2 separate regions of the Homo sapiens genome follow, and region 2 is linked to region 1. A link means that fine-mapping ties the variant in region 1 to the expression of a gene that starts in the linked region. Tissue or cell type: whole blood. Region 1 holds a variant in brackets; the other region holds the start of a gene. All regions are shown on one strand. Distances are between the middles of the regions.

Region 1 (8,104 bases):
AGACTCAGCTGCTGGCCTCCCAGGATTCAGTCTCAACAGATCCCAAACCATACATCTTCTCAGATGCTCAAAGGCCTTCTTCCTTTGGGTCCAAAGGAACTTTTCCCCACCATGACATTGCTACCTCTGTGGCTGCCGTTTGTATTTCTCTGCCAGTGAGAACAGATCACATAGCCCAGGAAATTCACAGTGCTGAATCACGAGACCACAGCCAGACTGCAGGGAGGACTCTGACATCAAGCTCCCCAGACAGCAAAGTCACAGAAGAGGGCAGAGCACAGACCCTCTTGCCAGGGAGACCTTCATCTGGACAAAGAATTTCAGATTCGGTTCCACTGGAGTCAACTGAAAAAACTCATCTTGAAATACCAGCTTCAGGACCAAGTTCAGCTAGTTCACACCACAAGGAAGGGAGACACAAGACGTTTTTTCCTTCCAGAGGCCAGTATGGGTGTGGGGAAATGACTGTCCCCTGCCCCTCTTTAGGAAGTGACGGTAGGAAACGTCAGGTATCTGGATTAATCACTCGGAAAGATTCTGTGGTTCCTTCTAAGCCAGAGCAGCCCATAGAAATTCCTGAAGCCCCTTCTAAATCCCTCAAGAAGAGGAGTCTGGAAGGAATGAGAAAGCAAACTCGAGTAGAGTTCAGTGACACCAGCAGCGACGATGAAGACCGATTAGTTATAGAAATATGAAGCTTCCAGAGAAACATGGTGTCTGGTCAAAAAGACTGTTGACGCTTCACAAGTAAATGTTGTCAGGCTGGCGGAAGAACTAAACTCTATCTGTGAAACACCTACAGATTAGGAAAGCCATTTTGAGTTATTTACAAGCCAACTCCAACCAACTTCTGACCCCCAACTCAGCCGCAGCGTTCCCCAGCTCCCCTTGGGAGTGCTCTGCTCATCTTCAAATGGTGCCAGGCAGGGCAGACATGGCAAGGAAGCAAACTCTGCAAATGGTCAACGTGCACAGTGACTGGGCCTTGACTCCCAGCCTCGTCTTCTGCACCTGTCCCCCACTGCCTCTCTGCAATCAAATGGCACTAACCAAGAAAGCCACCATCAACACATTTCTCCACAAGTGGACCCCACACAGTCGAGGCAACTGGCTTTCTCCATTAGTAAACTGAGGATTTGCTTCCAAGGTGGAGAGCACACTTGGGATAATTGGAGTAGCTTGACAAAGAGACGGGGGTGTGAACTGGGCACAAAGATACTTCTGTTCATTTTGGAGACAAAATTCAGATACATTAAAAAACTGAAGCTTGTTCAGAGTAATTCACGTCCTTGGTGGAGTTGTAAATACACTTCAAAATGCCTATGATCCGGTGACATGCTGATTACTTTTAAATGTTGCACAAATGGTCAATGCTTATTTATGGTCAGATGATGCAAGCACATGCTCTTGTGCCTGGTGCGTTTGCTGTGGAGATCTCTGAGACTGTCGGTTTTTCTAGTTCTTGCAAAGGAACGGTGTTAAAAGTTAATAGAACTGTCTCTCTGTAATGAGTCATTTTTTGAGAGGGAAAAATTCACTTATTTTCCTCTGATTCTTCTTGTCATATTGTGCTCTGAGCAATTTCAATTAGAGGGTTACATTTTAGTAATCTGTACAGCTTCAACTGATGCCTGCTCGTCGTGACGGGAGCCTTTTAGATTTCCTTCAGAAGCTTCAAGGATACAAAACTAATTGGAGTTTTGACGCTGTTTTACATCTCGGTAATTTTATTTTCGGGGCTTAGTGTTACTTTGCTGTCAAATTAAATCAGCCTCTGTATTGTGCACGTCAGAACTGCACAGAGAAAATTCCCCAGTATTCCAAGCCGGTGCGCCCCTGTGCAGAAGAAAACAGATCTACGTCAGCCAGCCCGGGGGGCAAAGCCTCAGTTCCACTGCCTTCCTCTCCCTCTCCTTCCACGGGAGAGGAGAAACTTAAAGAGGTTTACATTGCTGCATTTCAATAAAATTTTATACTTGCTTTTGGTATGATTTTGTACAATTTGAAATTTGTAGCTGAGCTCTTTTGGTGTAACTTTGATGTAATGATGTTCATATGACATCTTGTACTTCAGAGACACAGCAGCAATGCAGAGCATCTCACACATGTGAATACACTTCAGTCAGTCTGTGCCTGTGACTAAGTATGGTCAAATTTCAAGTATCTTCATGTGAATTTTCCAATTTTGGTGTTTTTCATAGAAAACTTCAATGCCAGACCAGCTTCCCTGGTTACTTAGCATATATTTGTGACCATTTCATATGCACTCATAAATATCCAAGGATTTCAGGCCCAGCCAAGAAAAACATAAGAAGGGAGGTAAAAAGGATGTTGGACATTGACTTAGTGTACTTTTTAAACCCAACAAAAGCGATGTGGTGATTATCTCCCTTTTCGAAGGATTCATGCCACTGTAATGAGAGAGGCAGTGTAGGCAAATGGTCTGAGCCTTGGATGGAGATTGAAGTCCTGACTTTAGCTGGGAAATCTTGGTTAAGAGTCTTTCTGTACCTTAGTTTCCCTAAGTGAGAATAAGAGAGTTGGACAAGACGAATGTATCTCCAGGTTCCAATTTTTCTGAGAATGGTTGATAGAGAAGCTGCTCTCTCCTTAAAATGCATGGACTCAATGGCTTGAAGATATTCCCCATGGGGAACCATTGCCACGGAGGCCTTGCATGCAAGAAGTTTGGGTGGGGACAGTGAGGAACTGAAACACAAGCACCTTCCACCAATTATTGCTGTGAAGAACCTGAGCCTGAAGAAGCTCCATCTAATTTTTTCCCCAGAGTTCCAGATTTTAGGGTGCAATCATCCAGCCTATACATGTGGCTCATAGTTCAAAAAATTAAAAGCAAAACCAGAACTCTCCAGTAGGAATGGAGAAAACCTATCTGTAGGCTGAACTGGCTCCTTTGTCTTAGGAGGCACTGGTCAGGGGAAAAAAGCTGTCTTCCAGACCCCTCCTTTCTGGGTGGCTACTGTGGAATCAACGGGGTCACTGGCTGTAAATCAGTAAGTCATAGCTCCAAACAGCACCAACTTCAGGATGATGGTGGAAGCTCTGTCCCTATAGGAGCCACCGTTGCCAGCTGTCACATCCCAACCTAGGTCAAATATGGCGGAATATTGATTTCGTCTCTAACTCCCTGTATCTCTTACAAAGGTAAAGCAGGTAGCGAAGCCACCTTGCTTCCCTGGTCTTTGCCTAGTGGCTGGCAATGTTTACAAGTGTACCTTACTTTATATCAACATGAATTTGTGAAAAAGCTGTATGTCAATGGATTTTTTAAAAATTAAAAATGTATTTTGAATGACCCTAAGGGAGCTGGCTCTTTAAAAGCATCCTAAGGTAAAGATTTTTTTTAAATGAAGAATCTTTTTATAAAGCAATGAACAATCTCTGATTTTATAAATCTTAATTTTCCTATGGGTTTTCTTAAAGTGAAATACAATTATAAGAATACATTTTAAGGGTAACATTAACAACCTAGAACCCAGTTTGGGTTACTAAAAATAAAATGTCAGTATTATCAATTGATAACTACCACAGTTTTATACTCTGCAAGTGTGTACTGCATGATGGTTAAGGAAAAACAAATTTATTTTAGAACAAAGCAAACCAGAGTTTAAAGATCAGGGATTTCCTTCTTTCCCCAGTGCTAATTTTCCCAGTGTTAATTTTATTATATCTTTAGGTAAGGGTCTTAACCAACTGATGCCTCAGTTTCTTCCACAGAGAATAGTTAGAGGGATGCTGTCATGAACTAAGGGAAGGGCACTGAATTTTTTTTTGCCAATATCAAAAGTGACATTTCCCCATGATGTTCAAGACTCACCAGGTTTCTCTCTCCACCTGTACCTACACCCAGCTAGATCTTGTCGTTAAAGATGTATGGAGGGAAGAGGTTTCAATCCTTCCCTCCTTGGCAACCTACATTGTTAAGTGACTCAAAGTCATGTGATTTTTGGTGGACAACTGGAATCCTCCTTCTTGTAAAACACATTGAAAAACAGCTCATCTCTCCTGTTAGGCTTAACCCTTGAGATTTGAGACAAAGCTAATAATCCCCTTTGGTTCACATCTCACAGTAACCAGGAGAACCTATGGTTCATTTGCCAAGTGATTAAAAAAAAAGATGGAGGAGGGTGTCTCTGAATTTTAATGGAAACACTGCCAATAGCATGGTGGGTAACCTAGGGCAAGACAGACTTTTTCTTCCTGAAATCACTCTTCTAAAGCTGAGACCGGAAGAGGAACCTTGCAGAAGTGCACTGTGACCACAGTTCTTGGCATGAAAGATAAACAATTTGCAGTCTCATGCCAAAAAGTATTTCCTTGCATTTACATTCATTACTTAGAATGATCACATTATTCATTTTTTTCCCCAGCACAGAAATTTGCATTTTGCACAGAATTTGCCTGGTGCAGCAGATCTTTATAGTTATGGAAACTGTCATCATTATCGGAATGTGCTGCTGCTCAACTCCCCAGACATAATTTAATATGGTGAGGAGAATATGACCTGCCTGGCTCTATGGGTGATCATATTTCTACTGCTGCAGCAAGCTGGGCTTGTGTATTTTTCCTCACTTCAGTTGTTCTTCCCATAGTTCATGTAGGGAGGCACTTTGGCTTTTGAAACACTACATTTCTCAATATTTAAGCACAATTTATTGTCCTTATTTTTCAGAACCCATTAAATATAAGGGTCAGAACCTAGAAAATCTTATGTGCTGGATTTCTACCCTGTATGATTCTTTTCATCCATGCTTTGCACTTACGTAGGAATATACATAATTTGGTCTGAAGAAGTATAGGAACAGTTGAGCACATTACTTCACCACTGGAAGAATAGGAACCAGGGAAAAACATCAGCCTCTGCCACTTGGAGCACTAGAGGATGACGGAATGTCTTGTATATGCGGTCAACTGTTCAGGATTTACTACTCAATTGGTTGTTCACAATCAGGGAAATGATTGGCTTCTTGGTTGTTTGTTGAACTTTCTTTCTTTATATGGTTAAATTATTTTGTTTTGATAAAA[A/T]TAAAACTTAAAATGCAAATGTCTCACGTGATTTGTTAACATTTTAACCAAAACCCCTGCAAATCATATGCTTTATGAATTGGACATCTGATTATTCCTAATCATTGACCCAATGCCTCGTTGGCCGTATTGGTATCCCATTCCACTCAACAAAGGGATTAGGTCATGTCAAATGATCTCACTTTCTTGTGGTGCTTCCTTTTCACACATAGCTCGTTTGTCATTATCTGCCATATTTTATAGTCTGTAACTTAGGAATCTGGTTTTAGATTCTTAAATGTAGCGAAACTCTGAAGCCACAGGAGGGCACGAACCACAGTGCAATAATCCAGAATCTTTTCCCCTTGGATTTGATGTTTTCTGGACATTTAGCATTATTCATTAACAGAGAAAACATCCTTAAATCAAAATCATAGCTTCTTATGAAGGTGATTTATGTACTCCTTGCAAGAATAAGTAGACTTACTTTTACAGCCCAACACAATGTTATTAGTCTATTTACATACCTCTTGAAGACACTTGAAGTCAGTGGGGCACAATTCATTGGAGGGAAAAGTGGGATCGAGGATATGGAAGGAACAGGTATACTAATTGATGGCAGTTAATAGCTTTTTTCCCCAAACTCATCAAACTGTAATCGCCGTTATTATAATTAATCTATTTGTTCCAAACTTCAGTCATTTGAGAACCATCTTAATGCTTTTTGCCATATGTATCAAGATGCCACATGTGGGTATATTTTTTACTTAATACTTTTATTTAAATTATCTCTGTGTTAAAGAAGCAATTATTGCCCTAAGCAATAATGTCTATGAAAACTTGTTGAATTTTCGAGTTAAGTATATTTTCAAATATGCATTAAATGTAGTAAAACTATTAAAAATTGTTCATGTGCCAGTTAAATACCATCTTCATATTACCAGTGGTCTACCCAGTGCACTTGGGGAAACATCGAGCTAACCTAAACAGTATGTTTGCTGTTAGGTTTTCTAGTTATTCTGGCTTCTATGAAGCAGAGCTCTGTCTCCATTTTTTCTCCAAGACAATAGAACTGGTGACCACAAACAGAATTGTGGGATTATTGGGTAAGTTTCTTTGGTCAAACTGTAGAGTTAAATAACTGACATTTCAAATCAAAGGATTTTGGTCTCAAAGGAATAATCACATAATGTTTTGTTGCATAAATATGTTTTTTGTTTGTTTGTTTGTTTTGGTGTTTTGAGTGTTGGCTGATTAGTCGGTGAGTACAGAATGATGTATAGGAATGCATAGTTAGGAATTCATGCCCAACCAGAAGCACCGACATAAGTTCTGCTGAAATAACTGCTTCCATACTTCTAAATGTGAGGGAAATGGATTTGGCTGTACTAAGAACCACAGAGAGCAACTTTTTAAGTCTCCTTAGTGTCAGCTTGTTGATCTTTGGGCTGTGTATGCAGAAAGAATTGCTCAGTGGCATCTGTGACCTTTGTTTCCAGCGGTGACAGACACAGTCTGCCTTCAGTTTCCTTCAGTTTCTGCCAGAGGCAAATTCAACAGCCTCTACCATTGAGCATCTTGGGATTAGTCCATGGCCATTTCAGCCCAGAAATAGGTGAATTATTTTTCCGTGTGAGGTATGAGTGAATGGATATCTCATTCCTATTGGGAATGAGAGGTTTGTACCTGCAGCACCTGGGAAAGAGTGGCCCAGTTCTGTCTGTGGCCACAGAGATCTGGTTGCCTTCTGTGTGTATATTGTGTGCAATGGGGTATTAATGCAGCATGATTGAGGCTTCTTGGCTCCATCATACATGAAAGGCCAGATATCTAGCCTTGCTTTTTCTACATGATGTGTAAACCACAAATGCGAATACTCTAGTTGGACATATTTGCCTGAAGGAACCCTCCTTACATACATACACACACACACACACACACACACACACACACACACACACACACTGAACATATTGAAAACTTCCTCAAAAGTCCTCCCCTTGTTAAAATAACTGGGTGGACTAGGGCCGATGAGTTAGGAAATGAGATGACTATGTATATGGCCCAAAAGGGAGCTCCCTGGAGGCAGAGCCCATGGTGTCTTTATCTTGGTTTTCTTAGCTGCTGGAAGAGTGCCTGGCTCATAGCAGGCATTAGTGCACTTTTGCTGAGTAAACAAATGAAAATGGCTCACCGAGAGTAAATAGGGAAGAAAGAAAGAGTCTAAGATAAATAATATAGCCCAACCCCTTCCTTCTTTTTTTTTTTTTTTTTTTTTTGAGATGGAGTCTCACTCTGTTGCCCCAGACTGGAGTGCAGTGGTGTGATCTTGGCTCACTGCAACCTCCACCTCCCTGGTTCAAGCAATTCTTCTGCCTCAACCTCCCAAGTAGCTGAGATTACAGGTGCACGCCACCACACCGGGCTAATTTTTGTATTTTCAGTAGAGACGGGGTTTCACCATGTCCTTAAACCAAAATCATAGCTTCTTATGAAGGTGATTTATGTACTCCTTGCAGGAATAGGTAGACTTACAGCCCAACACAATATTATTAGTCTATTTACATACCTCTTGAAGACACTTGAAGTCAGTGGGGCACAATTCGTTGGAGGGAAAAGTGGGATTGAGGATACGGAAGGAACAGATTTACTAATTGATGGCTCTTAATAGCTTTTTTTCCAAACTCATCAAACTGTAATCGCCATTATTATAATTAATCTATTTGTTCCAAACTTCAGTCATTTGAGAACCATCTTAATGCTTTTTGCCCTATGCATCAAGATGCCACATGTGGGTATGTTATTTACTTAATACTTTTATTTAAGTTATCTCTGTTAAAGAAGCAATTATTGCTCTAAGCAATAATGTCTATGAAAACTTGCTGAATTTTCGAGTTATTTTCAAATATGCATTAAAATGTAGTAAAACTATCAAAAATTGTTCATGTGCCAGTTAAATATCATCTTCAAATTACCAGTGGTCTACCCAGTGCACTCGGGGAACCATCAAGCTAACCTAAACGGTGTATTTGCTGTTAGGTTCCCTAGTTATTCTAGCTCCTGTTAAGCAGAGCTCTGT
Region 2 (8,107 bases), 94 kb before region 1:
GGGAGTCGCAGTTCTCTGTCATTCAGCAGGTGTGGACTGAGGGCTGGCTCTGTGCCAGGCCCTGTGCTGGATGCTGGGTTCCATTGTGAGGCCAGGCACAGCCAAGGCAGAGACGAACATTCCTACAGTCGCTCACGACACCAAGCTCCACAGACCAGAGAATGGACGGATCCACAGGAACGAAAGACAGGCTGTCAGGTGCCCAGCCCTGGGGAGACTCCAGAAGAGGAGAGAGGACCACCCATCATGGCTGACCTTGGGAGGACTTGGGTCTTCACAAATTGTGTTCCTTGGTATATATAAGAGGGTTAAAATAGACACAAGAAATATCCATCTATTCCCATTCATTTATTTGACACATACTCTTGGGGCCATGAGTTCAATTCCCAGAAGAGGATCATGATGGTGGGGGGAGGAAGGATGTGGCGAGGGGCCGTGCAGGAGCCCAGGGGGCTTGTCTCATGGACGCTCTTGATCGAATTCCTCTGAGGCCCCAGAGGTGCTCCTTCATCCCCAGCTTGCTTGTGAGGCTGCGTTGGCTCCCCAAGGCCGAGTTTCCTGCTGAGACCCAGCCACACACTTAGCCCTGAGTGTACCAGGTGGCTCCACTCAGAGCGCTGCTCCAGCCCCTCTCCCTGGGGCTTCCTGCCACGTGACTGCACATTTGGGGTCTGGAGAAGGGCCCAGGGACTGAACTGCAAAGGTGAAGGGTGTCCCTGCTCCTCCTGACCACAGCTTCTGGACTGGCATGTGTGTCTGATGGTGCAAGACCAGAGGGGCATGGCCAATGAGAGAGTTATTCTTTCTACCCGTGAGTCTCCCTCGGACACACAGGATTTCTCATGTCTCCTCCTGGTTTTGCTGCTTTTTTTTTTTTTTTCTAGCTGCATGAGGTAGTTTTGTTTGAAAGAATAGTCAATGCAGACTGCAGTTTTCCGAATGAGGCTTGCTCTTGGCAAGTGAGTGAGATATCTTTGTGTTTGTTTGTTTCCTTCAGAAAAAAGGGCCTGAGAAAGCAAGTTAACAATTCTTTGGAAATGATTTTTCTTTTTCTTTGGTGACTGTTGCCACATGCTTAGTTCATTGGTTATTGGTTGCATGCTCTGGAGAGTCTATCTGTACCATGGTGCTTAGAAAAATTAGAATGGGAGTGATGGATTTATTTGTTATATTGAATTGATATAACTCACATACCATGCAATTCACCCTTTTAAAGTGTCGGATTCAGTGGCTTCTAGTATATTCACAAGGTTGTGCAACCATCACTGTGATCTAATTCCAGAACATTTTCAACACCCCCAAAGAAACCCCATACATTACAGTCACTCTCACTGTCTTTGTTTTTTTTTGTTTTTTTTTGAGATGGAGTCCCGCTCTGTAGTCCGGGCTGGAGTGCAGTGGCATGATCTCAGCTTGCTGCAACCTCTGGCTCCTGGGTTCAAGCTATTATCCTGCCTCAGCCTCCTGAGTACCTGGGACTACAGGTGTGCACCACCACACCCGGCTAATTTTTTGTATTTTTAGTAGAAATGGGGTTTCACCATGTTGGCCAGGCTAGTCTCAAACTCCTGGCCTCAAGTGATCCGCCTGCCTTGGCCTCCCAAAGTGCTGGGATTACAGGCATGGGATTACATGTTGCTGCATGGATACATGATTTTATTATTTTTATGGCTTTGTATATTCCGTGGTGTATATATGCCACTTTTTCTTCATCCAGTCTACCGTTGACAGGCACCCAGGTTGATTCCATGCCTTTGCTATTTGTGAATAGTGCTGTGATAAACATACGAGTGCAGGTGTCTTTTTGGTAGAATGATTTATCTTCCTTTGGGTAGATACCCAGTAATGAGATTGCTGGGTCGAATGGTAGTTCTACTTTTAGTCCTTTAAGAAATATCCAAACTGTTTTCCACAGGGGTTGAACTAATTTACATTCCCACCAACAATGTGTGAGTGTTCCCTTTTTTTTCTGCAACCTCACCAACATCTGTTATTTTTTGACTTTTTAGTCATAGCCATTCTGACTGCTGTGAGATGGTATCTCATTGTGGTTTTGATTTGCATTTCTCTGATAATCAGAGATGATGAGCATTTTTAAAATATGCTTGTTGGCTGCTTGCATGTCTTCTTTTGAGAAGTGTCTCTTCATGACCTTTGCTCACTTTTTAATGGTTTTGTTGTTGTTTGTTTAAGTTCCTTATAGATTCTGAATATTAGACCTCTGTTGGCTGCATAGTTTGCAAATCGTTTCTCCCATTCCATAGGTTGTCTGTTTACATTGTTGATTATTTCTTTTGCTACATAGAAACACTTTGGTTTAATTAGGTACCAGTTGTCAATATTTATTTTTGTTGCATTTGCTTTTGAGGACTTAGTCTTAAATTCTTTGTCTAGGCTGACATTCAGAAGAGTATTTCCTTGGTTTTCTTGTAGGATTTTTATAGTTTGAAGTCTTACATTTAAGTATTTAATTCATTTTGGGTTAATTTTTGTATATATTGAGAGGTAAGAGTCCAGTTTCATTCTGGAATTAGAGTGGCACTAATCACTCTATTCAACATTCTTCTGCATATGGTTAGCTAGTTTCCCCAGCACCATTTATTGAATAGGGGGTCCTTTCTTTCACTGTTTATTTTTGTTGACTTTGTTGAAAATCAGTTGGTTTTAGGTGTGCAGCTTTATTTCTGGGTTCTCTATTCTGTTCCATTGGTCTGTGTGTCTATTTTTATACCAATACCATGCTGTGTTGGTTATTGTGGCCTTGTAGTATAGTTTGAAGTCAGATAATGTGATGCCTCTGGCTTTGTTATTTTTGCTTAGGATTGCTTTGGCTATTCGGGCTCCTTTTTGGTTCCATATGAATTCTGGAATAGTTTTTTTCTAATTCTGTGAAAAATGACATTGGTAATTTGATAGGAATAGTGTTGAATTGCTTTGAGCAGTATGGACATTTTAATGATATTGAGTCTTATAATCCATGAGCATGGAGTGTTTTATCATTTGTTTGTTTTCTTTCAGTAGTATTTTGTAGTTCTCCTTGTAGAGATCTTTCACCTCCTTGGTTAGATGTATTCCTAGGTGTGTGTGTGTGTGTGTGTGTGTGTGTGTGTGTGTGTTGCTATTGTAAATGGGATTGTGTTCTTGATTTGGCTCTCGGCTTGAACATTACTGGTGTATAGAAATGCTACTGATTTTTGTACATTGATTTTTGTATCCTTAAACTACTGAAGTCATTCATTGGGTCTAGGAGTCTTTTGGTGGCAACTTTAGGGTTTTCTAGATATAGAATCATATCATCAGTGAAGAGAGATAACTTGACTTCCTCTTTTCCTATTTGGATGCCTTTTATTTCTTTCTCTTGCCTGATTGCTCTGGCTAGGATTTTCAGTACTATGTTGAATAGAGTGATCAGTGCCATATCTTAAAAATAAAACCTAATTCAAACAAATCCATGTTGAACAAAATATCACCATTTTACATAAAGACAGCATCGCAGAAATCTTTCACTGGGACCTCCCACCATAGTCAATTGCAGTGGAAATGCTCATTCTGGGCCCTCAGGAACCTCTGGGGTTACATGTGGAGGTTCTGCAAACACTTGTTCCATCCACATCTCCAGGAAAACGACCACCTAGGCTCTAATTCTTAAACTTGCCTGCACAGAACAACCTCATCTCTAATGCAATGTTTTTTTGCACACCTACATTTCTGGGCAGCAAGCTCTTTATAGGTTGTTAGGTCAATAGTAACAATTACTAAAGAGCTGAGCGGTGGCTCTTTTTTTTTTTTTTTCGTGTCTGCTTCTATCTCTTCCTGTTTTCTAAGGGTTGCTACCGTGACGTTAGGTAATGTATAGGAAATAATTTACTTCCTATTTCTGGGCCATACCAAGTTTTATCTCTGCTTGAGTCTCTTCCAGGTTGCTTGAAATGGTGCTTTTCTCAGTTAAACGTGGACTTGACATAAAGGCCAAGCCACAGGAGGCTGCCCTCTTTTATTTTATTTTATTTTCTAAGGCTCAGGGAGCATCTCTCCGTTCTCTGAGATGCTGCCTGCAGAGTAGGAACTGGGAGAGAACACTAAAATGCCCTCTCAGCAAAGAGTAGCGAGCTCCCTACAGAGAGTGAGAGCACGGGCTCTTGAGCTCATCTCTTCTCTGTGGGGCCAGCCCAGTGGTCCTTTCTGGACCTGTGGGTGTCTTCTCTGGGCAACCAGATCATTGTGTTTGAATCAGAGCATCATTGGCTGAAAACACTCCACTGTTTATAAAGGTATGTAACATGCTCCATGACATAAGCATATATAAAATGTCAGTTAAAAAAAAACTCTTTTACTCTATGTTCTTAATGATATATTTATCTTCAAGCACGCAGTTAAAGGGAAAATGCTACGTAAAACTGTGTGTGACCCAGTTCAAGTAATTCTCTCATGTGCTTAATACTGCTGTTGCTTTTGTCAAAATATTTACTACAATTCAAAATGGCTGTCAGAAACCAGGTCCACAATCCATGTTCTACTAAACAGAAAAACATTTATAAGAAAATTTATTGCTTTATAAACTGTTTTTTTTCCCAGTGATGAACCTAATTAAACTGAAAGTGTGAATTGGTTAGAACATATTAGCCCAAGTATGTGTGGTATATATATACACATATATATGTATGTTTTATTAGGCCAAGTTTTTTATTTGTATATAATATAATTGAAATATCAAGGTATTTGATAGAGCTACTATTTATAGCAATTCTACTGATCAGCCACCCAAGGGTAGCATTTTTCAATGAGATTTACAAGGGCCAATAGTCCATGTATTTATACACATATCTGACTTCCCAGTATCCAAAATAGCAAAGAGCTGGAGGCTATCTCAGATCAGCCATGGAAGCCATGCTCTGAGAGGTAACGTGTTTCTCCTTTCCCGTAGCAAATCTTTCTGTAAGAATGAAACCAGAGATGTTATCTACCAAAATGCAACGAGGGACAGGATGCAACTTAGAAAAATGGTAACATTAGCTGACTGGGAAAAACAGAATCAACGTCAGGGCCAGTTTAAAATAATATGCCTTTTAACCACCCTCGCTTTATTGCCCCAGCTAAGAGCAAGTATTTAGGACCATAGGCTAATATTAATCAGAGAGAACACTTAGGTTCTGTGGCAATGTTGGGGTCTGTGAGATTTGCTTCCTTAGCTGTGCTTCCGCTGGGAAGCTGGGGAGGGTTGGTCCTGAAGGAGGAGTGCCATGTGAGCAGGGTTACCCAAAAGCACCTGCCTAGGGGAAATGGGCTCACTATCAGGCGCCGTGGAGTTACCAGCTAGAGAGACTTTTCTCCTGGTAGAGACCATGAACATCATGTAAGCAGAGAACCAAGACTGTAAAAGGGAGGTAGGGTAGGCTGTTTGGTTAGGGGAGTGGGGCAGGAACAGACACAGGGAGAGTCTACCACGTCTGGACAAATCACATCTATGGTTTTATCCAATCCTTTGAACAAATGAACATGAGCCCCACTTTTCAGATAAGGAAAACACAGCATGGAGAGTTTAAGTGACTTATTCCAGGTTACAGGGTTTATAGGTAGCAGAGCAAAGGTTCAAAGACAGGTCTTATCTCCAGGGTCTGGGAACTTTACCCACCATGCTGCCTGTCTGGGTGTGGCATGGCAGGGAAGGCTGAGTTATGCTGGAAGGTCACACTCAGGGATTTCTGCAGAGTGACTTTGGGGCATAGGTAGGAAGCTTGTTCTCAGTACTGGCTTGTTACCAAGTGAGAGATCTTTGTATGTTTTCATTGCTTTCCTTGTAGTTCCTTTTTTTTTCTTCTTTTTTTCTTTTTTGGAGCTGTAATCTCGCTCTGTCACCCAGGTTGGAGTGCAGTGGCATGATCAGCTCACTACAACCTCTACCTTCTGGGTTAAAGCGATTCTTCTGCCTCAGCCTCCTGAGTAGCTGGGATTATAGGTGCTCACCACCACAACTGGCTAATTTTTTTGTATTTTTAGTAGAGAAGGGGTTTCGCCATTTTGGCTAGGCTGGTCTCTAACGCTTGACCTCAGGTGATCTATCTGCCTCGGCCTCCCAAAGTGCTGAGATTACAGGCGTGAGCTACCACACCCAGCCCCTTGTAGTTTCTTTATGATCACTTTGTATTCATAGCAATGTTGGAGCTTTTCCAGATATGGTAAATGGTAGTGATGTCAATTTTCCTTTGAATATATAAGGGTACATAAGAAAAAGTGAGTTGATATAAAGAAAATGAAAGGAAAATGGTCTGTGCAGAGTCGGTGTTTCTCCAAGGGTAGGCTGTGGTACTCGTGGCTAGGGTCGGTTCTAGATACACTATGGATGCTGCAGTAAATAACATTGACTCACACACTGGGAAGGTTGTTCCTGTTTTGATTCTATTTACGTATTTATTACTTTCATAAATTAGCCTCTTTGTTTTGAGAACATTGCAGATTCACCTGCAGTTGTAAGAAAAAAATACAGAGAGATCCCATGTGTTTTTTACCCAGTTTCCTCCAATAGCAACATCTTGCAAATCACAATCAAAATATTGACAGTGATATAGTCAAGATACAGAACATTTCTGTCACCGCAAGGATGCGTCGTGGACACCCCAAATCCCTCCTGCTCTCCTCCTCTCTCTCTCCCCCCCAACCCCTTAACCCCAAGCAATCACTAGTCTGTCCTCCAGTTTTATAATTTGTCATTTCAAGAATGTTATATGAATGGAATCATTCAGTGTGGTGTGTAGCCTTTGGGGACTGACTTTTTTCATTCAGCATAATTCTCTAGAGATTCATCCAAATGTTTCATGTGTCAACGGTATGCTTCTTTTTATTGCTCAGTAGTGTTCTGTGATATGGATGTACCACAGTTGGTTTAAATATTCATTGTTGAAGGGCATCTGGGCTGATGCCAATTTTTGACTATTACAAATAAAGCTTTAGAAACATTCATGTACAAGCTTTTGTGTGAACGTAAGTTTTCATTGTGAAATAAATGCCCAGGAGTGCAGTTGCTGGGTTGAATAATAGTCCCATGTTTGATTTGTTAAGAAATGGCCACCCTTTTTTCCAGAATGGCTGTGCCACTTCACATCCACACCGAAATGGATCCTGGCAACGTGGGCAGTGTTTCCAGATCCTCGCCAGCATTTGCTGTTTCACTATTTTTTATTCTAGCCATTCTGACAGGTGTGAAGTGATATTTTATTGTGGCTTTAATTTATATTTCCCAGGTGGCTAAAGATGTTGAACACCTTTTCGTGTGCTTATCTGCTGGCTGTATACCGTTTTTGGTGATAACTTGCTTCATGTGTTTGCACACTTTCTAATTGGATTGTTGTTGGTTTTTTTTTAACTGTTAAATTTTCATAGTTCTGTATAGATTTTAAATATAAGTCCCTTGTCAGATATGTTGTTTGTGAATACTTTCTCCAGATCTGTAGCTAGTTTTTTATTCTCTTATTATAAGCAGGGGTTTGCACAGAGCAAAAAAAAAAAAATTAACTTCGATGAGGTCCATTTTATTATATTTTCCTTTTATGGCTCATACTTTTTGTTTCAAGTCTAGGAACTCTTTCCCACTTTAGAAGTCCTAAAGATTTTCTCCTGTGCTTTTTTTCCCCTAAGCTTTTACAGTTTTATATTTCACATTTAAGACTGTTTTAAATATTTTGAGTTAATTTCTATATAAGTAAGATGTGAGGTTTAGGTCAAGGTTTTTTTTTTCTTTTTTCTTTTGCCTGCGGAAGTCAATTGTTTCAGCATCATTTGTTGAAACATCTACACTCTCTCTACAGAACTGCTTTCAACCTTTGTCAAAAAATCAGTTGGCTGAGGCAGGAGAATTGCTTGAACCCAGGAGGCAGAGGTTGCACTGAGCTGAGATCGTGCCACTGCACTCCAGCCTGGGTGACAGAGCAAGACTCCATCTCAAAAGAAAAAAAAATCAGTTGGGTATATTTGTGCAGATTGATTTATGTTTTTTTTTTTAATTATTTTGTTCTACTCATGTCTGTGTCTATTCTGACAATACAGTCTTGATTACTTTGGCTATATAATAAGTTATCAAGTTAGGTAGACTGATTCTTTACACTTTATTATC

Evidence for each region. PIP is the estimated chance that this variant, and not a neighbour inherited with it, causes the effect.
Region 2: ZNF831 starts here. The variant in region 1 is fine-mapped to the expression of ZNF831 in whole blood (INTERVAL, PIP above 0.99).

What each region holds. Positions count from the first base shown.
Region 1 is chr20:59,254,049-59,262,152 of GRCh38, forward strand. It overlaps ZNF831 (zinc finger protein 831), which reads left to right. Exons shown (of 6, transcript NM_178457.3): 6 at 1-5,065. The coding sequence ends at 695. Among named protein-coding and RNA genes, the nearest start is that of EDN3, 43 kb to the right of the region's middle. The variant A/T (reference allele first, on the strand shown) is at 5,047.
Region 2 is chr20:59,159,937-59,168,043 of GRCh38, forward strand. It overlaps ZNF831 (zinc finger protein 831), which reads left to right and starts at 3,885. Exons shown (of 6, transcript NM_178457.3): 1 at 3,885-4,271. RefSeq lists an enhancer at 1-235.